Linked DNA regions of Homo sapiens: all the other regions are linked to region 1. Evidence: fine-mapped expression QTL. A gene starts in region 1. Each other region holds a variant in brackets. All regions are shown on one strand. Distances are from middle to middle.

Evidence for each region. PIP is the estimated chance that this variant, and not a neighbour inherited with it, causes the effect.
Region 2: its variant is the best candidate, but not a certain one, in a credible set for the expression of GPATCH1 in whole blood (TOPMed, PIP 0.79).
Region 3: its variant is the best candidate, but not a certain one, in a credible set for the expression of GPATCH1 in whole blood (GTEx, PIP 0.56).

Annotation. Positions count from the first base shown.
Region 1 is chr19:33,076,561-33,084,605 of GRCh38, forward strand. GPATCH1 (G-patch domain containing 1) reads left to right here and starts at 4,621. Exons shown (of 20, transcript NM_018025.3): 1 at 4,621-4,706. The coding sequence starts at 4,634. RefSeq lists enhancers at 4,516-4,845, 6,481-6,981, 6,952-7,121 and a cis regulatory region at 7,037.
Region 2 is chr19:33,037,162-33,045,206 of GRCh38, forward strand. It overlaps RHPN2 (rhophilin Rho GTPase binding protein 2), which reads right to left. Exons shown (of 15, transcript NM_033103.5): 2 at 7,088-7,203. Among named protein-coding and RNA genes, the nearest start is that of RHPN2, 24 kb to the right of the region's middle. RefSeq lists enhancers at 4,196-4,340, 4,472-4,973, 6,159-6,709 and a cis regulatory region at 4,261-4,274. The variant T/C (reference allele first, on the strand shown) is at 4,061.
Region 3 is chr19:32,963,056-32,971,100 of GRCh38, forward strand. It overlaps CEP89 (centrosomal protein 89), which reads right to left. Exons shown (of 19, transcript NM_032816.5): 2 at 3,305-3,411. It also overlaps the pseudogene RPL31P60. Among named protein-coding and RNA genes, the nearest start is that of CEP89, 4.9 kb to the right of the region's middle. The variant T/G (reference allele first, on the strand shown) is at 5,225.

The DNA.
Region 1 (8,045 bases):
AAATAAAATAAAATAAGATAAACTAAAATAAAATAAAAAAGTTATTGGGTGTTCTTTGCCTATTTTGAAGCTACAAGCTGTAAGAAAATTACGAGTAATATAGAAATAAAATCATGGACTTTGGTGTTTTGTCTGAATATATGAATTTGTCCCCAATCTTTTTTACTTTCTTTTACTTTTTCTTTTCTTTACTTTTTTTTTTTTTTTCTTGAGACGGAGTTTTGCTCTTGTTGCCCAGGCTGGAGTGCAATGGCATGATCTTGGCTCACTGCACCTTCTGCCTCCTGGGTTCAAGTGATTCTTCTGCCTCAGCCTCCCGAGTAGCTGGGATTACAGGCATGCGCCACCATGCCCAGCTAATTTTGCATTTTTAGTAGAGACAGGGTTTCTCCATGTTTGTCAGGCTGGTCTCAAACTCCTGACCTCAGGTTATCTGCCTGAGTGCTGGGGTTATAGGCGTGAGCCACTGCACCCGGTTTCTTTTACTTTTTCTTTGAGACAGCGTCTCATTCTGTCACCCAGGCTGCAGTGCAGTAGCGCAAATTCTGCTCACTGCAGCCTCTGCCTCTGGGGCTCAATTGATTCTCCCATATCAGCCTCTGGAGTAGCTGGGACTACAGACACGCACCACTATGCCTGGCTAATCTTTGTATTTTTTGTAGAGGTAGTTTTGGCATGTTACCCAGGCTGGTCTTGAACTCCTGGGCTCAAGTGATCCTCCTTACATGGCCTCCCAAAGTGCTGGGATTATGGACTTGAGCCACTTCGCCCAACTTTCTTTACTTTCTTTTTTTTTTTTTTTTTTTGAGACAGAGTCTTTGTCGCCCAGACTGGAGTGCAGTGGCACAATCTTGACTCACTGCAAATTCTATCTCTCAGGTTCAACTGATTCTCATGCCTCAGCCTCCCAAGTAGCTGGGACTACAGGCATGAGGCACCACACCTGGCCAATTTTTGTACATTTGGTAGAGACAGGGTCTCACCGTGTTGGCCAGGCTGGTCTCAAACTCCTGATCTCAGATGATCCACTTGCCTCGGCCTCCCAAAGTGCTGGGATTACAGGCGTGCGCCACTGCACCCACCCTGATTAAGTATAGTTTACTATGTTTATTTATCCTCAAACATTCCAAAGCTTGAGGATAGCCACCCAGAAACACCAATTCCAAATGTATAGGGTCAACATTCCAAAGGGGAGCCCAGGCACGATGGCTCACGCCTATAATCCCAACACTGTGGGAGGCTGAGGTGGGAGGATCACTTGAGCCCAGGAGTTTGAGACCAGCCTTAGCAACACAGTGAGACCTGGTCTCTACAAAAAATAAAATAATTAGTTGAGCGTTGTCAACTAGTAGTCCCAGCTACTTGGGAGGCTGAGGTGAGAGGAAGGCTGCAGTGAGCCATGATCCTGCCACTGCACTCCAGCCTGGGTGTCAAAATGAGATATTGTCTCAAAAACGAAAGCAAAAACACACAAAAAAAGCATTCCAAAGTGGAGAAGTTACGGTTTCACTTATATAGGCAGAGACATACAATCCTTACAGTGACTTGACTAGCTATAGGATGCTACCTTCCAAGGAAGATTGCTTTATTACTCTGTGAGGGGTGTACCCGTCTGAGGAAGTCTTATCTCTGCCCTGTTTGGTCTTAGTTATTTCTAGGGTAAAAGGGGCAGAAGGTACAGCTGCTCGCCATGTGATTCATGCTGCATAACCACATTCCTCTCAAGTTTCAGGATCATTTACAATTCCAACAGCAGCTGGGCGTGGTGGCTGGTGCCTGTAGTCCCAGTACCAGGGATGTTGAGGCTGGAGGATTGCCTCAGCCCAGTAGTTTGAGGCTGCAGTGAGCTATGATTGCATCACTGCACACCAACCCTGCCTCTAAAAAATAATAATATCAACAATAAAGTTCCAACAGCTTTAAGTTTGAATTATTTAATTCCACAACTCATTTATCAACATATGTTGCAGATAACTCATGGGGAGTTTAAAATACTCATAGTATTGTCACAGGTTATAGGTTTTTCTGATTACGTATTGCTGTTAATGAATTATCCCATATCTTTTTGTTGCTGTTGTTAGAGACAGGGTCTTGCTATGTTGCTCAGGCTGGCCTCTGATTCCTGGGCTCAAGTGATCCTCCTGTTTCACCCTCCCAAGTACTGTCACTAAACCTGGCTAATTGCTTCATATCTTTTTTATTTTTTTTTTCCCCTTAGAGACAGGGTCTCTATAGACAGAGATCCTCTGTCTATAGAGGATCTATGAGCAAGGTGGCTCATGCCTATAATCCCAGCACTTTGGGAGGCTGAGGTGGGTGGATCACCTGAGGTGAGAAGTTTGAGACCAGCCTTGCCAACATTGCGAAACCCCGTCTCTACTAAAAAAATACAAAAATTAGCCAGGTGTGGTGGCGCACGCCTGTAGTCCCAGCTACTCAGGAGGCTGAGGCAGGAGAATCGCTTGAACCCAGGAGTTGGAGGTTGCAGTGAGACGAGATCGCACCATTGCACTCCAGCTTGGGCAACAGAGTGAGACTCTGTCTAGACAAAGAAAATAAACTAAAAAAAAAAAAAAAAAAGAAAATTACAATTAAATTACAATTACAACTGGAAAGCAGTTGGGAGATTTCCTGAAGAACTTAAAACAGAACTACCATTAGACCCAGCAATCCCATTACTGGGTATATACCCAAAGGAATATAAGTTGTTCTACCATAAAGACAAATGCATGCATATATTCATTGAGGCACTACTCACAATAGCAGAGACATGGAACCAACCTACATGCCCACAAATGGTGGACTGGATAAAGAAAATATGGTCCACATACACCATGGAACACTACACAGCCATAAAAAAAGAACAAGACTGGCCAGGCGTGGTGGCTCATGCCTGTAATCCCAGCACTTTGGGAGGCTAAGATGGGCGGATCACGAGGTCAGGAGATCGAGACCATCCTGGTTAACACGGTGAAACCCCGCCTCTACTAAAAATACAAAAAATTAGCTGGGTGTGGTGGCAGGCGCCTGTAGTGCCAGCTACTCGGGAGGCTGAGGCAAGAGAATGGCGTGCCTGGGGGACAGAGCGAACTCCGTCTCAAAAAAAAAAAAAAAAAGAAACAACAAGACCATGTCCTTTGCAGCAACATAGATGCAGCTGGAGGCCATTATCCTAAACAAACTAATGCAGGAACAGAAAACCAAATACTGCATGTTCTCACGTATAAGTGGGAGCTAAACATTGAGCACACATGGACATAAAGAAGGGAATGACAGGTGCCAGGCGCAGTGGCTCACGCCTGTAATACCAGCATTTTGGGAGGCCGAGGCGGGTGGATCACTTGAGGTCAGGAGTTCAAGACCAGCCTGGCCAACATGGTGAAACCCAGTCTCTACTAAAAATACAAAAAAAAAAAAAAAAAAAAAAAAAAATGGCCGGGTGCGGTGGCTCACATCTGTAATCCCAGCACTTTGGGAGGCCAAGGTGGATGGATCGCCTGAGGTGGGGAGTTCGAGACCAGCCTGACCAACATGGACAAACCCCGTCTCTACTAAAAAAAAAATTACAAAATTAGCCAGACATAGTGGTGCATGCCTGTAATCCCACCTACTAGGGAGGCTGAGGCAGGAGAATCGCTTGAACCCGGGAGGCGGAGGTTGAGGTGAGCCGAGATCGTGCCATTGCACTCCAGCCTGGGCAACAAGAGTGAAACTCTGTCTCAAGAAAAAAAAAAAAAAAACCACCACAACAACCAACCAACCAAACAAACAAAAATTTAGCAGGGCGTGGTGGGGTGGACGCTTATAATCCCAGCTATCAGGAGGCTGAGGCAGGAGAATCACTTGAATCTGGGAGGCGGAGGTTGCAGTGAGCTGAGATCGCGGCCACTGCACTCCAGCCTGGGCGACAGAGCGAGACTCTGTCTCAAAAAAAAAAAAAAAAAAAAAGGGAATAACACCAGGGCCTACTTGAGGGTGGACCTACTTGAGGGTGGAAGGTACGAGGAGGGTGAGGATCGGAAAAACTACCTATTGGGTACTATGCTTATTACCTGGGGAGGAAATAATCTGTAACCCAAATCCCTTGCGACATGCAATTTACCTATATAACAAACTTGCACATGTACCCCTGAACCCAAAATAAAAGTAAAAAATAATAATAATAAAAATAAAGCGAAGCCCCACGGGGCGAGCATGAAATCTGGGAGCTCAGCCATTTCCCTGGAGGTGGCTGGGTGGGCGGTGGGAGTGGACGGGGCTGGGCAGTGACTGCTGCCAAGGCAGGGGGCTGGCGCGAGGGACGGGGGTAGGGGGCTGGGCAGGCATCGGTGTCGCCTCGCAGGGAACAGTTGGGTGGCTTCCAGCTTATGCCAGGAGTCTCCTCCTCACCCGCACATCGCGGGGCTAGGATGGGATGTCGTGGCTGCCAAATCCTCCGAGGCAACTCCTGCCTGGGACGGCCTACCACAGGATGGGCCTGAGAATCCGGAGCGCAGGCTCGGGCCGCTAGGACACCTTCCCCCGCCCGCGGACCCAGCCTTCCAGCATCACCGGGGTTCGCGGAGGAGAAAGAGGAAAGGCGTTTGGCCTGCCAAGGCCGCCGTAGCGAGGGGGCGGGGCCCGGAAGAGCAGGATGGCGGCGCGGGACAGTGACAGCGAAGAAGATCTGGTCAGCTATGGGACCGGGCTGGAGCCTCTGGAAGAAGGTGCGGGCCGCGTGGGCCGGCGGAGCCTGTGGAAAACAGGCCAAGGGCCCAGGATTCGGGCCACAAAAGCACAAGTCGGTGCTGGACCATTGTTAGATCGTTCCCAGCGCTGGGAACACGGCGACGAGGGAGGCGTTAGCCGCGCTCTCGGGGTGCTCACCTTCTGCAGCGACAGAGAGAGGTTTACAGGGACGGGAGACACAAGCGTGGCCGAACAAGGGGGCGGCGAGATAGAAACAAGAAAATGACGGAATAGCTAGTGTGAGAGCGGGGGGTGCTCAGGCAGTGTCTTCCCCGAGAGAGGACGTTTGAGCTCAGACTTGAAACCGAGGAAGAAAACAACCATGAGCAAATCTGGAGGGAAAGCATTTCAGGCAGAAGGAACATAAAGTGGCAAAGGCCCTGAAGTGGGAGCCAGTTTAGGAAATTGAGGGGCAGGCAGGACGGGTATGGTTGCAGCAGATGACAGCGGGGGAGACAGGTAGAAAAGAATGTCAGAGGGGCTGACAGGGGCTGGATCTTACTTGGTAGGGTAAAGAGTTTGGATCTTGTACTAAGTGCAGGATTAGGGTTAGGGTTAGGGTCATGGGAAATTACACAGGGAGGGATATATATATGATTTTTAGAGACAGGGTTTTGCTCTGTTTCCCAGGCTGGTCTTGAACTCCTGACTTCAAGTGATCCTCTCGCTTCTGCCTCCCAAAGTGCAGGGATTACAGGCTTGAGCCACTGTGCTCGGCCAATTTTTAATGTTATTCTATCTTTGATGTTGAGAATACACTGGTTGGGGATGGGTAAGAGTGAAGCAGGGAGATTAGCAAAAAGAGGTCAGGAGATGATGGTGGCATGGATGGGACAGCAGTGGTGGTGGTGTGTAGTGGTCTGGGTGGAGATATATTTTGAAAGCAGAGCTGACCATACTTGCTGGTGGAATGTGGGGGTGAGGGGCAAGATGAATCAAGGTTCTCTCCTGTGTTTCTGGTCTGTTCCACTTAACGACTTGACTTGTTCAGCAAGTTATGTATTGAGTGTCCAGTAAGGGCTGTTGGCTGTGCTAGCCCTGTAGGGAAGGCAGAGGAAGAATGGTGGAATCATTGGGCCACAATTTATTTGCAGACCTCCTGTTGGTGGGGGTCCCCTCCCTTTTTTCACCCTGACCACATCCTGCCAGGTTGATTGTACTTCTGGGATATCTCCACTTATGCCCCCTTTATTTCCTACAAACAGTTCTGGTGGAAACTTCTGCTGGATACTGGCCCTTCTTCTACCCTCGGCTTACAAAAGGTTGAGAAAGGGGCCAGGCACAGTGGTTCACACCTGTAATCCCAGCACTCTGGGAGGCTGAGGTGGGAGGATTGCTTGAGGTCAGGAGTTTGAGACCAGCCTGGGCATTGTAGTGAGACTCTGTCTGTAACAAACAAACAAACAAACGAAACAAAAGGCTGAGAAAGGCTAGTCTTCCGAATGCTTTTTATGTGTTTGAAGTCAGCTGTTGCATTTTCTTAAGACATCTCTGTTCTACACTCACTATCCCAAGTTCTTTTTTTATAGAGACAGGGTCTTGCTGTGTTGACCATGCTGGTTTCAAACTCCTGACCTCAAGCGATGCTCTCACCTTGGCTTCCCAAAGTGCTGGATTGCATGCATGAGCCACAGTGCCCAACATTTTTTATTTTAAAAATAGAGATGAGGCCGGGCGTGGTGGCTCACGCCTGTAATCCCAGCACTTTGGGAGGCCGAGGCGGGCAGATCGCGAATTCAGAAGATCCTAACCATCCTGGCTAACACGGTGAAACCCCGTCTCTACTAAAAATACAAAAAAAAATTAGCTGGGCGTGGTGGGGGGGGGCTCATGTAGTCCCAGCTACTCGGGAGGCTGAGGCGGGAGAATGGCGTGAGACTGGGAGGCAGAGCTTGCAGTGAGCCAAGATGGCGCCACTGCACTCCAGCCTGGGCGACAGAGCGAGACTCTGTCTCAAAAAAAAAAAAAAAAAAAATAGAGATGGGATCCTTCTATGTTGCTCAGGCTGGTCTTGAACTCCTGGCCTCAAGTAGTCTTCCCAGCTCAGCTTCTTAAAGTGTTGGAATTATAGGCGTGACTCTCTACGCCTGGCCCCAACCATGTTTTTGTTTTTTTTTTTTTTCTGTGACAGAGTCACGCTCTGTTGTCCAGGCTGGAGTGCAGTGGCGCGATCTCGGCTCACTGCAACCTCCGCCTTCCAGGTTCAAGCGATTCTCCTGCCTCAGCCTCTCAAGTAGCTGGGATTATAGGTACATTCCACTACGCCTGGCTAATTTTTGTATTTTTAGTAGAGACAGGGTTTCGCCATATTGGCCAGGCTGGTCTTGAAGTCCTTAGGTCAAGCAATCCATCTGCCTTCACCTCCCAAAGTGTTGGAATTACAGGCGTGAGCCATTGCATGTGGCCCCCAACCTTGCTTTTGAAGTGGAAGGAAAGGACATGGATTTGTAGACTTTGTTTTTCTGGACTAAAAACATTCTTTAACTTCTCAGTAATACAAGTTTTTGAGGATTGATTCATTGTCTTCTAAGCACTTTTTTTTGAGAGTTTCGCTCTTGTCACCCAGGCTGGCATGCAATGGTGCGATCTCGGCTCACTACAACCTCTGCCTCCCAGGTTCAAGAGATTCTCCAGCCTCAGCCTCCCGAGTGGCTGGGATTATAGGTGCCCACCACCATGCCCGGCTAATTTTTATATTTTTAGTAGACACAGGGTTTTACCACGTTGGCCAGGCTGGACTCGAACTTCTGACCTCAGGTGATCTGCCTGCCTCGGCCTCCCAAAGTGCTGGGATTACAGGCGTGAGCCACCATGCCCAGCCAGTTTTCTAAGCACTTTGAAATTTAAATGCACTCTGTCTGTATTTTACGATATAACACACTAGACTAATAATTATTTTTACTCCCTGCTTTGAAGTTTTAGTGACAGGTTAGACAGGCATTGGTAGAGGAGAACTCCATTTTAATTAAAGTTGCTGGCCCTGACAGAAAGGTTTATTAGTTAAGAGTTAACCAGGGAGCCTAGTGACAGTGGCTGAACTTTATAGACACATAGGCCTTCTAATCTGGAAAGAAGGGGGCCAGATACTTACCTATTCTTTCCTTAGACACTTCCACTTGGTTCTAGAATTCTTATCTACAGCTCATTCTATACCCAGATTAATTTTAGGGCCAATTTTCTCCTCCTTGATGCTGTGACTCTCACACTTAAAACTAACCGTGGCTTCCCTCGCCCCCAGGACACACTATAAACCCTGCAGCACTATGTTCAAGGCCCCCTGCACTGTCCGCCTTTCTGGTTCCATCTTCCGCTCATTC
Region 2 (8,045 bases), 39 kb before region 1:
CCAATCAGCACCCTGTGTCTAGCTCAGGGTTTGTGAATGCACCAATCAACACTGTATCTAGCTACTCTGGTGGTGACTTGGAGAACCTTTGTGTTGACAATCTGTATCTAGCTCATCTGGTGGGGACATGGAGAACCTTTGTGTCTAGCTCAGGGACTGTAAATGCACCAATCAGCACCCTGTCAAAACAGACCACTGGGCTCTACCAATCAGCAGGATGTGGGTGGGGCCAGTTAAGAGAATAAAAGCAGGCTGCCTGAGCCAGCAGTAGCAACCTGCTCTGGTCCCTTTCCACACTGTGGAAGCTTTGTTCTTTCACTCTTTGCAATAAATCTTGCTGCTGCTCACTCTTTGGGTCCACACTGCCTTTATGAGCTGTAACACTCACTGCGAAGGTCTGCAGCTTCACTCCTGAAGCCAGCGAGACCACAAACCCACCGGGAGGAAGGAACAACTCCAGACGAACAACTCCAGACGTGCCGCCTTAAGAGCTGTAACACTCACCGCAGAGGTCTGCAGCTTCGCTCCTGAGCCAGCGAGACCACAAACCCACCAGAAGGAAGAAACTCCAAACACATCCGAACATCAGAGGGAACAAACTCCAGACACGCTGCATTTAAGCACTGTAACACCGCGAGGGTCCGTCGCTTCATTCTTGAAGTCAGTGAGACCAAGAACCCACCAATTCCGGACACACTAGGATTGCACTGCTACACTCAGTGTGGGCAACAGAGTGAGACCTCCTCTCAAAAAATAAATAAATAGGCATGGTGGCTCACAGCTGTCATCGCAGCACTCTGGGAGGCCTAGGCACGAGGATTGCTTGAGCCCTGGAGTTTGAGACCAGCCTGAGCATCATAGGGAGACCCAGTCTCTACAAAAAAATTTTTAAAATTAGCCGAATGCCAGTCAGGTGTGGTGGCTCATGTCTGTAATCCCAGCACTTTTGGAGGCCGAGTGGGCGGATCACTTGAGGTCAGGAGTTTGAGAACAGCCTGGACAACATGGTGAACCCCCTCTCTATTAAAAATACAAAAATTAGCTGGGCATGGGGGTGCGTGCCTGTAATCTCAGCTACTAGGGAGGCTGAGGCAGGAGAATCGCTTGAACCCAGGAGGCAACAGAGCGAGACTCCATCTCAAAAAAAAAAAAAAATTAGCCTACTATGGTGGTACACACCTGTGGAGGCTGAGGCGGGAGGACAGCTTGAGCCCAGAAGGTTGAGGCTGCAGTGAGCTGTGATCATACCACTGAACTCCAGGTTGGGCAACACAGCAAGACCCAGCCTCAAAATGAATAAATATAAAAATTTTATTTATTTATTATTTATGTATTTATTTATTTTGAGACGGAGTCTCGCTCTGTCACCCAGGCTGGAGTGCAATGGCATGATTGCAGCTCATTACAACCTCCGTCCCCCTGGTTCAAGCAATTCTCCTGCCTCAGCCTCCCAAGTAGCTGGGATTACAGGCGCACACCACCACACCCAGCTAATTTTCTTTTCTTTTTGTTAAGAGACAGGGTCTCACTCTGTCACCCAGGCTGGAGTGCAATGGCGCGATCTCGGCTCACTGCAACCTCGAACTCCTGGGCTCAGGGGATTCTCCAGCCTCAGCCTCCCGAGTAGCTGGGATTACAGATGTGTGCCACCACGCGTGGCTAATTTTTGTATTTTTAGTAGAGACAAGGTTTAACCATGTTGGCCAGGCTGGCCTCAAACTCCTGACCTCAAATGATTTGCCCGCTTCAGCCTCCCAAAGTGCTGTGATTACAGACTTGAGCCACCACGCCTGGTCTAAAAAGTTTTTTTTTTAAAGTAATACATGTGTATGTTGCATTCTGTCCCCATTTGTTTTAGTGTAATTATTTTTCTCCCAAGTCTTTTAATAAAACTATCCTTCCAGGAATAAGCACCACATTGACATAGTGACTTGCCGCAGCTTCAGCGACCTTATTAGAGCAGCTTAGCCTTAGTCCATCTGATCCCAAATCCCGCTCTGCCAGGGTTTCAGGAGGCTGGAGCGAGGACTGTCCCATCCCCTGCTGAGGTGGCTGATCAGCCAGACCGGCAGGACATCTGCTCCCAGCCTGTCTCTCAATGGAGGAAGGTGGGCCTTGATGTTGATGTCAGCCCCAAAGGCTATGGAGGGCCTGCAAACCCCACCACAGACACACACCAGCCCTCCCACAACTGACGGTGTGAGCTGTCATCAACCTCAAGTCACTCTCATGACAGCCAAGGCCACCTCACGTCACTCCTGACCCAGAATTTCATCACCCCCGTCCAGAGGTCACAAACTAAACTGAAGGCCCGAGGGACTTGTTCACCTGGCTCTCAGGATGTTACTATCCCCCCTCTGAAACGAGTCCCCAAAACTTAAAAATTCAACAATCGGCCAGGCACAGTGGGTCATGCCTGTAATCCCAGCACTTTGGGAGGCTGAGGCAGACAGATCACTTGAGGTCAGGAGTTTGAGATCAGCTTGGCCAACATGGCAAAACCTCGTCTCTACTAAAAATACAAAAATTAGCCGGGTATGATGGCGCATGCTTGTAGTCCCAGCTACTCAGGAGGCTGAGGCAGGAGAATCACATGAACCTGGGAGGCAGAGGTTGCAGTGAGCTAAGATCACGCCACTGCACTCCAGCCTGGGTGACAGAGCAAGACTCTGTCTCAAAAAGAAAAAAAAAAAAAATTCAACAATCAGATTAAAAACAAAAAAAAATTCCTAACTTCTCCTGGAAAAAAAAAAAATTAGAAGATACAGCAACTCTGGCCCTACCCTCCATGAGGCAAACTGCAGTTGCCTCATCCAGACAGGGCATATGCTGTGCACTTCACCACAGTCCCCACCACTCCCTGTTGTCTCACAGCACAGAATCCAGCCCCATTCACTCATTTAAAGCCCACCTGATCCCTGTAAACCTCGGAGCAGGTCACTTCTGATCTAGCCCAACAACTCTCAGCACAACAGGGGAACCTGAAGCCCAGAGAGGTTAAATGACCTGCTCTTGTTCAAAGAATCAAAGAACTAGTTAGCTAAAACTAGTTAAAACTAGGCAACCTGCCTTTTTTTTTTTTTTTTTTTTTTTGAGACGGAGTCTTGCTCTGTGGCCCTGGCTGGAGTGCAGTAGCGCGATCTCAGCTCACTGCAAGCACTGCCTCCCAGGTTCACGCCATTCTCCTGCCTCAGCCTCCCGAGTAGCTGGGATTACGGGCACGTGCCACCACACCCGGCTAATTTTTTTATTTTTAGTTTTAGAGATGGGGTTTCACCATGTTGGCCAGGATGGTCTCGATCTCTTGACCTTGTGATTCGCCCACCTCGGCCTCCCAAAATGCTGGAATTACAGAAGTGAGCCACAGTGCTCACCGGCCCTGCTTTAAATTTCACAAGGACTGCCTCAATTTCAGATAAACTTCATCATATTTCTACCCTAGCTTTTCTCAAGGGAGGGAAGCTGGGAGAAGACAGAATATTGTCTCTGGTTGGCCTAAATGAAAAAGTACGGTCAGGCATGGTGGCTTACACCTGTAATTCCAGCACTTTGGGAGGCTGAGGCAGGCAGATCACCTGAGGTCAGGAGTTCCAGACCAGCCTGGCCAACACCGTGAAACCCTGTCTTACTAAAAGTATAAAATTTAGCCAGGCATGGTGGCACATGCCTATAATCCCAGCTACTCGGGAGGCTGAGGCACAAGAATCACTTGAATCCAGGAGGTGGAGGTTGCGCAGGTGAGCTGGTATCTCGACACTGCACTCCATCCTGGGAGACAGAATGAGACTCTGTCTCAAAAAAAACAAACAAACCTGAAAAAAGTGCATTTGAAATATTTGATGGCTTCCTAAAAAAACTCCAGGAAGCTCATGGACTCCCAGCTGGAATGGATCAGAGAAGGGGAAGACTTTGAAGGATCATAAAATCTGGTTTTTCAAGTGCCTGCCTAGCCACGATACCCTCTGACAGTCCTCAGATAAGGGCTTAGCACCCCCATTTCCATTCCTGCATTTCTGGGGACACCTCCAAACATCCCCCACCCCTATTCCAACAGATCTAC[T/C]TTCCTTTGGGGGCTGCGGTAGGAAACCTGGGAACCAGAAGACAAACAGAAGGAAAGCAGGGCCTAATTTACAACTGAAACCACCCATGGCCTGCAGAGACAGCCACGTAATGGGTCGCCCAGGGACACTGAGGGGCCAGAGCGGAGCTTGGCAAAATGCCCTATTTGTTTTCGGGAAACCGTTGGTGCTTGTTGAGTCAGATTAATAAATACCTTCAGGGTTTCCTCTGACAACATTCTCCAGCAAGGGGTACTTTGAACCTTTAGGCCACTGTGAGAATCATTAACAACCCCCCACTCCTGCCCCTGCCAACCCAACCACTGCCAGTTTAACAATGAGCTTGAGTCAGGCTCGGGCCTCAGAAAGGGTGACTGCTGTTGTCGTTAAGAGAACAAGGCACACAAAACTGCCCTAGTTCCTGCCTGAGAAAGTCCAAGTTCCCTGCTCACAGGGGCCTCTCTGACCACCCTCTGTCTCTAAGGCTGGCCATCCTGGGCCAACCTCTATGATATTCAGAGTTCATTATTCCCTAGAAAACATCACTTCCCTAGGTGATCTGATTTGTTTACTTGTCTATAAAAGTCTCCTCCCATCCTCCAACAAGAGAAATCACAAAAGCAGAGCCTCGCCTGATCTTCAGGCACCTCAACTGTGCCTGCCACTTAACAGGTGCTCAATAGCCAGGCACAGGGGCTCACTCCTGAAATCCCAGCACTCTGGGAGGCTGAGGCAGGAGGATCACTTGAGGCCAAGACTTTGAGACAAGCCTGTGCAACACGGTGAAACCCTGTCTCTACTAAAACTTTAAAAAATTCAATTAGCCAGGTGTGCTGGCACGTGCCTGTAGTCCCAGCTATTTGGGAGGCTGAGGCAGGAGAACCACTTGAACATGGGAGGCAGAGGTTGCAGTGAGCCAAGATTGAGCCATTGCATTCCAGCCTGGGCAACAAGAGTGAAACTCCATCTCAAAAAAAAAAAAAAGGTGCTCAATGAATCCATGAATAGGTAAATCAATTGTTGTCCACTCCTAGGAAAGCCATACACCATCAAGGCTGCCCACCTGCCCCCTTGGCCACAGAGCAGGCCTGTCCAAGGGTCAACCAGAACCCTAGGCCACAAAACATACCACGGCCTTCCCAGCACATGACAGGGAGTCCCAAAATCGGGGGCCTCTCTCACGTCACACAGATGACATGAGTTGCTCTCTGCTATGGGAGTGGACAATTCCCATGTCCAAACTTGTCTTGGGATAGGGACACTGCTTGACTTTTTAAAAGCCAAAACGCTACAGTATTTTTCCCAGCCTCCTCCAGTAACAACCTGCTTTGCACCCAGTTGCAAAAGGAGCTGGAGAAGAGATTCCCAGACAAACTTCCCACCCAGGACCTCAAGTCATCAGGTATTCCGTGAGTAACAAAAGCAACACAGGCCAGGCACAGTGGCTCATGTTTGTAATCCCAGCACTCTGGGAGACCAAGGCAGGAGGATCACTTGAGGACAACAGTTCGAGAACAACCTGGGCAACACAGCAAGACCCTGTCTCTACAAATAATTTTTAAAAAATCAGTCGGGCATTGGCCAGGCACAGTGGCTCACGCCTGTAATCCCAGCACTTTGGGAGGCTGAGGCGGGTGGATCACGAGGTCAGGAGTTCGAGACCAGCCTGGCCAAGTTGGTGAAACCTCGTCTCTACTAAAAATACAAAAATGAGCCGGGCACGGTGGCGGGCACCTGTAATCCCAGCTACTGAGGAGGCTGAGGCAGGAGAATCACTTGAACCTGGGAAGCAGAAGTTGCAGTGAGCCAAGATCACGCCACTGCACTCTAGCCTGGGTGACAGAGCAAGACTCCGTCTCAAAAAAAAAAAAAATTAGTCGGGCATGGTGGTGCATGCCTGTGGTCCCAGCTACTCAGTAGGCTGTTAGGAGGATTGCTTGAAGAGCCCAGGAGGTTGGGGGCTACAGTGAGCTGTGATTGCACATTGCACTCCAGCCTGGGCAACAAGAGCGAAACTCCATCTGAAAAAAAAGAAAAAAGGTGGCATGACGCCAGACGCAGTAGCTCGCGCCTGTAATTCCAGCACTTTGCGAGGTGGAGGCAGACGGATCACTTGAGGCCAGGCGTTCAAGACCAGGCTGGCCAACATGGTGAAACCCCGTCTCTACTAAAAAGACAAAAAATTAGCCAAGCATGGTGGTGCATGCCTGTGGTCCCAGCTACTGGGGAGGCTGAGGCAGGAGAATCACTTGAACCCAGGAGACACAGGTTGCAGTGAGCCGAGATCACGCCACTGCACTCTAGCCTGGGCGACAGAGCAAGACTGTCTCCAAACAAACAAAAAACAAGGCGGCACGGGGCTAACCATGGTCTCCAGTAGAACTCTGAAGGAAGAAGAAACTCTGCACTCTTTGTAAACAGAGTGCTGGCACATTGTCTTTTGTTGCATTTCGTTGCCTGGAGAGGGTTTATAGAGGTCTAGACACAGGTAAGGCTTCTCTGAGTTCTATGCTGGGTAAGTAACTGTTTTACCACGAGAGCATACTAATGAGTGCCCTAGATCACGGGGGTGTACTGAGCCCTCTCATTAGCAAGGTGGACACTGGCAATAGAAATATCCCCTCTCCTTCCTTTCTGCTTTTCTTTCCTTTATATATTCAATAAACATTTACCAAGCAAATTCTGCACCAGGCATAGTGTCAGGCAGTGGAGAAAATAGACAAGTCCCAGAGAAAGCCAGAAAACAAACCTCGAGACAAAAATTGGGCTTCCCATCAAGATGGCTGACTGAATTGAAGCCAAATGCCACACCGTCTGCATCTATCTCCCACCCACCCAATCCCCAAACACACAAACAGGCGGGGTAAAATATCTGTTTTCAACATAACCAAGCTATAGGCAAGAAAGGGACGACTCCAGATGCCAGAAATGAGGAGGAAACCCAAAGCTGAAACCAAGAGCCTGGCCTGGGAGTTTAGGGAACAGATGACTAGGACTCAGGAGAGGCAGGGAAGCCAGAAGACACCTACTTCAGAAGGTTTTCCGCTCCGGTCCTCATCCGCACGGCTTTCAGGATCTGCTGATTCAAAGCAGCTCTTTGATTCTGCAATTTACTCCGGCCGGTTTGTGCAAGGGGATTACAGCCCTGAGGAAAAATAAGAGATGCCCCTTCAGAGGTCGGCCACTCTAAAAATGATGACAGGGTTTAATATAATGGAAAATGTTTAACTTTAAAAATAATCTTTTCTGAAAACAAAGCATCTACATAGAAAATATTGAAAAGTATAAAGAAAAGTCGCTCATAACAACACAATTGCAAAACAGCCACTGTGAATTGGTCTTTCCTTCTCATCTATTTTATTTATGTAATTTATTTTAGAGACAAGGTCTGAGCTAGGCACTGTGGCTCATGCCTGTAATCCCAGAACTTTGGAAGGCCAAGGCGGGTGGATCACCTGAAGTCAGGAGTTCAAGACCAGCCTGGCCAACATGGTGAAACCCTGTTTCTACTAAAAATACAAAAAATTAACCAGGTGTGGTGGTGGGCGCCTATAATCCCAGCTACTCAGGAGGCTGAGGCACGAGAATCGCTTGAACCTGGGTGCTGAAGGTTGCAGTGAGCCGAGATTATGCCACTGCACTCCAGCCTCGGCAACCAAAGTGAGACGCTGTCTCAAAAATAAATAAATTAATTAAAGACATATCTCTAGGGCAGAGTTATAAGATCAAACCTTTCAGGGCTACCCATGGGCCAGCCCAATCATCCTCCAGGACAGAAAGGCACCCACACCCTTGTGACCGCTTTCCCCCTCACTGTTACTGAGTATCTACTTTTTTTTTTTTTTTTTTTGGAGATGGAGTCTCGCTGCGTGCCTAGGATGCAGTGCAGTGGCGCGATCTCGGCTCACTGCAATCTCCGACTCCTGGGTTCAAGTGATTCTCATGCCTCAGCTTTCCAAGTAGCTGGGACTACAGGTGCATGTCACC
Region 3 (8,045 bases), 110 kb before region 1:
TAGAGAAATGCAAAATAAGACCAGGCGCGGTAGCTCACGCCTGTAATCCCAGCACTTTGGGAGGCCGAGGCGGGTGGATCACTTAAGGTCAGGAGTTTGAGATCAGCCTGGCCAACATGGCAAAACCACATCTCTACTAAAAATACAAAAATTAGCCGGGTGTGGTGGTGCATGCCTGTAATCCCAGCTACTTAGGAGGCTGAAGCATGAGAATCGCTTGAATCCAGGAGGCGGAGGTTGAAGTGAGCTGAAATCGTTCCACTGCACTCCAGCCTGGGTGACAGAATGAGACTCTGATCAAAAATAACAGACTCCATCTCAAAAACAAAAAAACAAAAATAACCACAATGAAATACTAGTACACGCTCATGAAATGTCCAAAATTTTAAAAACTGACCAAGACAACCCCTTGTGCTCTTTTATTCTAAACTGGGCCTATGAGAATGGATTCCACAAAGGAGGGCAATAAGAAGGGTTGTTCTGTCGTCAACAAGGTTGTGACCAGAAAGCACACTATCAGCACTCATGAGCACACCTATGGAGTGTGCTTTAAGACACTGCCCCTGGCATACACAAAGAGATCTGGAAATTTTCCATGAAAGAGCTAGGAACTCGAGATGTGTGCATTGATGCCGGGCTCAACAAAGCTGTCTCAGACAAAGGAGTAAGGAATATCCCTCACCCTATCTGTGTACCACTGTCCAGAAAGCGTAATGAAGATGAAGATTGATCAAACAAGCTCTGTACATTGGTTAGCTATGCAACTGTCACCACTTTCAAAAACCTACAGTCAATGTGGATGAAAACTAACCACTGACTGTCCAAGTTATAAAAGACCACACACACACACACACACACACACACGCACTCACACGCATGCACATGAACACACACACACACACACACACACACACACACACACACACTCTGACCAAACCAAGTGTTGGTGAGAATATGAAGCAACTGGACTCATATACTGTTGGTGGGAACATAAATGGGACAATGACCTTGGAAAATAGTTTGACAGTTCCTTAATAAATTAAATACCTGCCTAGTATAAGGCCCAGTTATAGATATTTACCCGAGAAATGAAAGTATGTATCCAAACATTTGTGTATACATTTTTTTTTTTTTGAGATATAAGTCTCGCTTTGTTGCCCAGGCTAGAGTACAGTGGTGCGATCTGGGCTCACTGCAACCTCTGCCTCCAGGTTCAGGCGATTCTCGTGCCTCAGCCTCCCCAGTAGCTGGGACTACAGGAGTGCACCACCACACCCAGCTAATTTTTGTATTTTTAGTGGAGATAGGTTTTCACCGTGTTGACCAGGCTGGTCTCAAACTACTAAGCTCAGGTGATCTGCCTGCCTTAGCCTCCCAAATTGCTGGGATTATAGGCATGAGCCACCACACTCAGCCAGTGTGTAAATGTTTACAGCAGCCTTTTTCTAGTAACCAAAAATTAGAAACAAACTAAATATCCATCAACAGGAGAATGGATAAACAAACTGTGGCATATTCATATAATGAAATACTACTCAGTAAGGAAAAGGATGAATTATTGACTTTCGGAACACGCGTTAATCAGAATAATCATGCTGAGTGAAGGAAGGCAGTGTATTTTATGTAACTCCACTTATATAAAATTCTAGAAAATACAAGCTAATCCATAGTGTGAGAAAGGAGATGAGAGGTTGCCTGGGGATGAACAGGAGCATGAAAGGTGGCAGAGAGGGGCAGGGGGAAGGAATTACAAAGGAGCATGAGGACCCTTGTCAGAATGATAGATATATTTATTATCTTTTTTTCTTTTTCAGGAGCTACCCTATTAATTATCTTTTTAAAATAAACTTTTTTAGAGGCAGGGCCTCACTCACAACAGCCTCACTGTTGCTCAGGCTGCAGTGCAGTGACATGATCATAGCTCACCGCAGCCTTTTCCTCTTGGGCTCAAGTGATCTTCCAGCCTTAGCCTCCCGAGTATCTGGGATTGCAGACATGCACCATCATGCTCAGATAATTTATTTTCTTTTGATTTTTGCTATAGATAAGGATTTGCTATGTTGCCCAGGCTGATCTTAAACTCCTGGGCACAAGCAATTCTCCTGCCTCAGCCTCCCAGGATCAGTTTACCCTAGGAGTTCAAGACCAACTTGGGCAACATAGTGAGACCTCCATCTCTGCAGAAAATTTAAAAAATTAGCCAGGCATGGTGGTGTGTACCTGTAGTCCCAGCTACTCAGGACGCTGAGACAGGAGGATCGCTTGATGCTAGGGGGTTGAGGCTGCAGTGAGTCACGTTCGCACCAATGCACTCCAGCCTGGGCAACAGAATGAGACCATATCTCGAAAAAACTTTTTGTTTTGGCCAGGCACAGTGGCTCACGTCTGTAATCCCAGGCACTTTGGGAGGCAGAGGCAGGTGGATTGCTTGAGCCCAGGATTTCAGCCTGGGAAACATGGCAAAACCCTATCTCTATAAAAAATAGAAAAATTAGTTGGGCATGGTGGTACATGCCTGTAGTCCCAGCTACCCGGCGGGCTGAGATGGGAGAACTGATTGAGCCTGGGAGGTGGAGGCTGCAGTGAGCCATGATTGCACCACTGCACTCCAGCCTGGGCAACAGAGCAAGATCTTGCCTTGAAAAAAAAATTAATAATTAAAAAAAAAAAAGAAAATGGGCTGGGTGCGGAGGTTGATGCCTGTAATCCCAGCACTTTCAGAGGCCAAGGCAGGCGGATTAAGAAAGAGGTCAGGAGTTTGAGACCAGTCTGGCCAACATGGTGAAGCCCCATCTCTACTAAAAATACAAAAATTAGCTAGGCGTGGTGGCATGTGCCTGTAATCCCAGCTACTCCGGAGGCTGAGGCAGGAGAATTGCTTGAACCTGGGAGGTGGAGGCTGCAGTGAGCCAAGATTGCGCCACTGCACTCCAGCCTGGGCAACAGAACAAGACTCCGTTTCGAAGGAAAAAAAAAAGAAAGAAAATTATGTGTATAATTCAAAATTCCCTGTTAACCTGAATACTTGGGCTTTAATGCTTTACATTTTTTTTTAAATACTCATTGCATTCAATCATGAAATGTGAGAAGTTCATGCACCTGAAAAGGAGAGACCTCAAGTCAGTCCATTATCCTCAGAGACACCATATTAATTGCATCATTATGGAATCGTGGTAAACATTTTGAAGGACATGATTCTAACCACCCTACTTATACTTTTCTGGGCAGTTTGAGCAGTTCCAGGATCCAGTACTTGGAGGCTGAGCACAGGGGTGACCTCAGTGCCTGCTCATCTGATACTCACCTTGGTCTCTCTGGAGATGGGTTGGGGCTGCGGGGAGGAGGTGTGCGTGGCACAGCTGCCTTCGGAGCAACGCTGGCTGCAGGTAAAAGGCCATGGATGATGTGTTTCTGCACAAATGAAATCCAACAGAAGTCACTGGGTTGGGTCACTGGATCACCTGAGTCTTGTCACCACTCTCCCTGGGCCTGCAAGGGGACACCTGCACTGGCCACCCATGGATCCAAACCCATCAGAAGCCCACTCCTCCCCTGCCATCCCCAGTCCCCATCAGGCCAGACAAGTGCACACAGCCAAGGAGCATCATGATAGCTGCTCATTGTGTGGCCCTCTTGTCCTTCCCTCCTCAGAGCTTCCCTGGCTGTCCCCAAGAGTCACCCTCTAGCTCTTCCATGTGTCCCACAGCACTCCCCCCAGTGATGTCTCATGTGGCTCCCCCTGCAGAGCAGGGCGACTTCCTGAGAAGCAAGTGATATCCTTATTGTTTTTCGCTTTGTTTTGTTTTTGAGATGGGGTCTTGCTCTGTTGCCCAGAGTGGAGTGCAGTGGTACGATCATAGCTCACCGCAGCCTCAAACTCCCGCTTCAGCCACACGAGTAGACGGGACTACAGATGTTCACCACCATGCCTAGGTAATTTTTGTATTTTTTTGTAGAGACAGGATCTCACTACATTGCCCAGACTGGTCTCGAACTTCTAGCTTCAAGTGATCCTCCCACCTCAGCTTCCCAAAGTGTTGGGATTATAGGTGCGAGTGCTGCACCTGGCCCACTCTCTTATCTTTATCAATCCTGGAACTCTAGCATTGAGCACATTGCCTCACACCTCATAGGGGCTTAATATAAGCTTTTAGGTGGCTTATCTCCAAGACGAGAGTAATGAAAACTAGCTCCTATACACAATGAAAGTCAGAGAGCTCCGCTTTAGGTAACTGTAACTGGGAGTCTCTGAGACGTTTCTGGGTCTAGTCCAATCATTTTCTTGGCACGAGCCATTCATTCACACCTACTAGAGGCAAAACACCATGACAGCAATGAAGAAACCTTGTCTTCATCCCCAAAGTGGTGAGAAGGGAGGAAAAACACCCAAATAATTATTACAGAACATAGAATTATGGAATGAGCCGGGAGAAAGGCTCTCACTAAAAATGAAAAAAAAAAAAAAGAGCATCAATGAGATGTGGGATAAAAACACTATTGTTTTCTATTTGAAGCCAGTAATTAGCACAAAGTGCTGGGGTGGGCAGGGAGGGAAGATTCCTCCAGGTCTGGGGCCAGCCTGGGAATTTCAAATGCTTTCCTTCGAGAAAATCACACAGGCGTTTAGACTGGGCTTTCAGAGATGCCCACTGGTCCCACATTTGGAAATGTGACGGAACAGCATTCTAGGAAGAGGGAACGGCATGAACAAAGGAATGGAGCAAGACATTGGTTGCAGTGCTCGGAAATCATAAGCACGATTCTCCGTTTTGCTAGACTAGAGGCATCTTCGAGGGTGGGGCTTGGGGGCATGGTGGGGACAATTCCCATGGGAAGGGCTTCCAGAGCAGATGGAGGAAATCCCAAGGCCTAGTGAGGAGCACCCACTGACAGTGGCCCCAGGAATGTTAGGTAGTGGTCAGCACGAGACACAAGGCTGGGAAGGGTGGCACAGAGTGGGGGCATCTTTCAGGAGTGAGGGATGGGCACACCTTCCAGTCATCTCCTACAGCCCCCACCACCGACTTGCACAGCCACCCACAGGAGCAGAAGCTCCAAGCAGTCTCTACCCAATACCCCCACTCTGTTTACCTCTGTGTGGCACCTGCCACCCTGTATTTGTCAAGTGATTCCACAGTTTCCATGTTTCCACCCTGCCCCCCTCCACCACCTGCTACACGACAAGAAATGGTTTTTGTTTGTTTGCTTGTTTTGGAGACAGTCT[T/G]GTCTGTCACCCAGGCTGGAGTGCGGTGGCACGATCTTGGCTCACTGCAACCTCCACCTCCTGGGTTCAAGCTATTCTCATGCCTCAGCCTCCCAAGTAGCTAGGACCACAGTCATGTGCCAACATGCCTAGCTAATTTTTGTATTTTGGTAGAGATGGGGTTTTACCATGTTGGCCAGGGTGGTCTCAAACTCCTGACCTCAGGCAATCCGCCTGCCTTGGCCTCCCAAAATACTGGGATTACATGTGTGAACCACTGCACCTGGCCAGAAAAGGTTTTCTTAACCTTTGAATCCCAAGGGCTGGCGTCCAGCAGGTCCTCCAAAAAGGCTGCATAAGATTTTTTTTTTTTAAAGAGTGAATCCCCCCTCATACCATCACAATCATTCCTAACTATGGTCCCCTCATCAATCCTGTCTCTACTGGGCATAAAAACCCTCATGGGCAGCACCACTCTCTCAACGGCAGGCAAATGTCCAGCATGGCTTATCAGGCTGATATAGGTTGGTTCCTACCAAGTGTTATGGGATTTTTGGGGTGTCGATTTTTCTGGCCGGAACCTCTGTGGCCACAGTGCCTTTGCCTGAGTTCTTGTCCTGCATCCAGGAAGAATGAGGTACACAGACAAGTGAAGGGTGAAGAGGAGTTTTATTTAGTGTTAGAAGAGCTCAGAGGAGTGGGTAGCTCCTCTCTGGAGACAGATTGTCCCATGAGCTCAACCATTCAGCTCTCAACAGAGAGGAGGCCCTGGAGAGAGTGGCTCCTCTCCGCAGGCAAGTCATTCCAATGTCTCTGCAGGTCTCTGAAGCTCGCAGCAGAGTGTAGCTCCTCTCTGCTGGCAGGTGGTCTCTGTAGCTTTCAGCGGAGAAGGTACTCCTCTCTGTAGCTGGTCACCCCACCGTCTCCAGCTATCAGCAGAGAGGGTACTGCTCTCTGCAGCTGGTCATCCTGTCCCCTCGTCTCTACCATCTTCATCCTCTGGCTATTCTCTGCGCTGCTCTGGCTGAGCCCAGGGTTTTTATGGACCTCAGCGGGGAAGAAGTGTGTGCTGATTGGGCCATTGGCAGGCCCAGAAAAGGCTCCACGAGTTTCCACTCTGGTCAGAGGGACTGGCAGCCCAGCCCCCAGAATTCAGGCCCTCCCTGGCCTGAGGGTGGGGCCTTACTGGGGACCCCACCCCCTTCCTCCTGCTGCCATTCATGGCTGCAGGTCTTGGCTCCGACTCCCCTCCAAGATCAGAGCAGTTGCTGGAGTGGAGAGAGGCCAGGCAGTGGAAGCAGACACCCCTGAGCCTGCAGGGATGGAGGGTGAAGGGGGCTGTCCTTCCTGGGATGGCCGATGGTGCAGGCTACAGAGATGCCCTCGTCCTGTGCCTGGGGGGGCAGCCACAGCTGCACCTGGGAGCTCCCACCCCGCCAACTTGGAAGAGGCAGGGCTCCCACTTGTCCCTGGCTCCTGCCTGCGCGGCTGCAGCTGCATCTGGAAGGGCAAATTCTGCCTGTTCCCGGCTCCCCCAGGAGCAGAGAGGCTCGGATCCACAGCTGCAGTTTGGGTGGCTGTAGCCCTGCCCAAGAGGGTGGGGCTCCTGCCTGCTCCATAGAGCAGAAGGCCTGGGTCTGCAGCAGCGGTTTGCGGCTCCAGTCCCAACTCATGAGGGACGGGGCTTCCACCGGCTCCATGAAGTGTGCAGCCCTAGCCACACAGCGTGATGGCAGCAGCCACTGCCATCACAAGGACCCAAATTCATTTCTTGCTTCCCCTCCTCTTCCTGCGCAGAGTCCCTGTGCTTCAGCACTCAGCGTGGGCTTCCATTTCCCAAACAGCAAATAATTCATTCTTTTTTAGGCCTTGGTATTTGCTGTCTTCTGCACCCAGAATTCTTTCCTTACTCCCTGCCAGGCCCAGGCCAACTCTCCAGGCTGACGTCACTGCCCTTCTGGTACACACATCAACAGCAGTTCTTGTTTTACCATTGTGTACAGAATTATTTATGGGCTTGTCTATCCTACAGACCGTGTGGCCATAAGCTGTCAGTTGTGGGTATCAGCACACAGCAGGGACTCATTAATGTTTGGGGCTTTAAATAAAAACTCAAGCCAGATGCAGTGGCTCACACCTGTAATCCCAACACTCTGGAGGCCAAGGTGAGAGGATTGCTTGAGCCAAGGTTTAAGACCAGCCTGGGCAGCATACCCAGACCCCATCTCTACCAAAAAAAAAAAATTATGTTTTTTTGAGGCAGAGTCTAGCTTTGTCGCCCAGGCTGGAGTGCAGTGGCACAATCTTGGCTCACTGCAACCTCTGCCTCTCGGGTTTAAGCGATTATCCCACCTCAACCTCCCGTGTAGCTGGGATTACAGGTGCCCACCACCACGCCCGCTAATTTTTGTATTTTTAGTAGAGATGGGTTTTCACCATGTTGGCCAGGCTAATCTTGAACTCCTGACCTCAAATGATCCGCCTGCCTCAGCCTCCCAAAGTGCTGGATTACAGGTGAGAGCCACCTCACGTGGCCTCTACAAAATAATTTTTAAAATTAGCCAGGCATTGAGACTTGGCAGAGTGTGAGGCAAAAAATAAAATAAATAAAAAATACCTAGGTGTGGTGGTGCACACCTGTAGTCCCAGCTACTCAGGAGCCTGAGGCAGGAGGATCACTTGAACCCAAGAGGTTGAAGCCACAGTGAGCTATGATCATGCCACTGTACTCCAGCCTGGGCATCAGGACAAGACCCTGTCTCTAAAACTAAATTAAATAATAAATAAATATAAGAATCCCCTTGGCTGCTACGTGGAGAATGGACCTAGGGGAAGGGCGAGA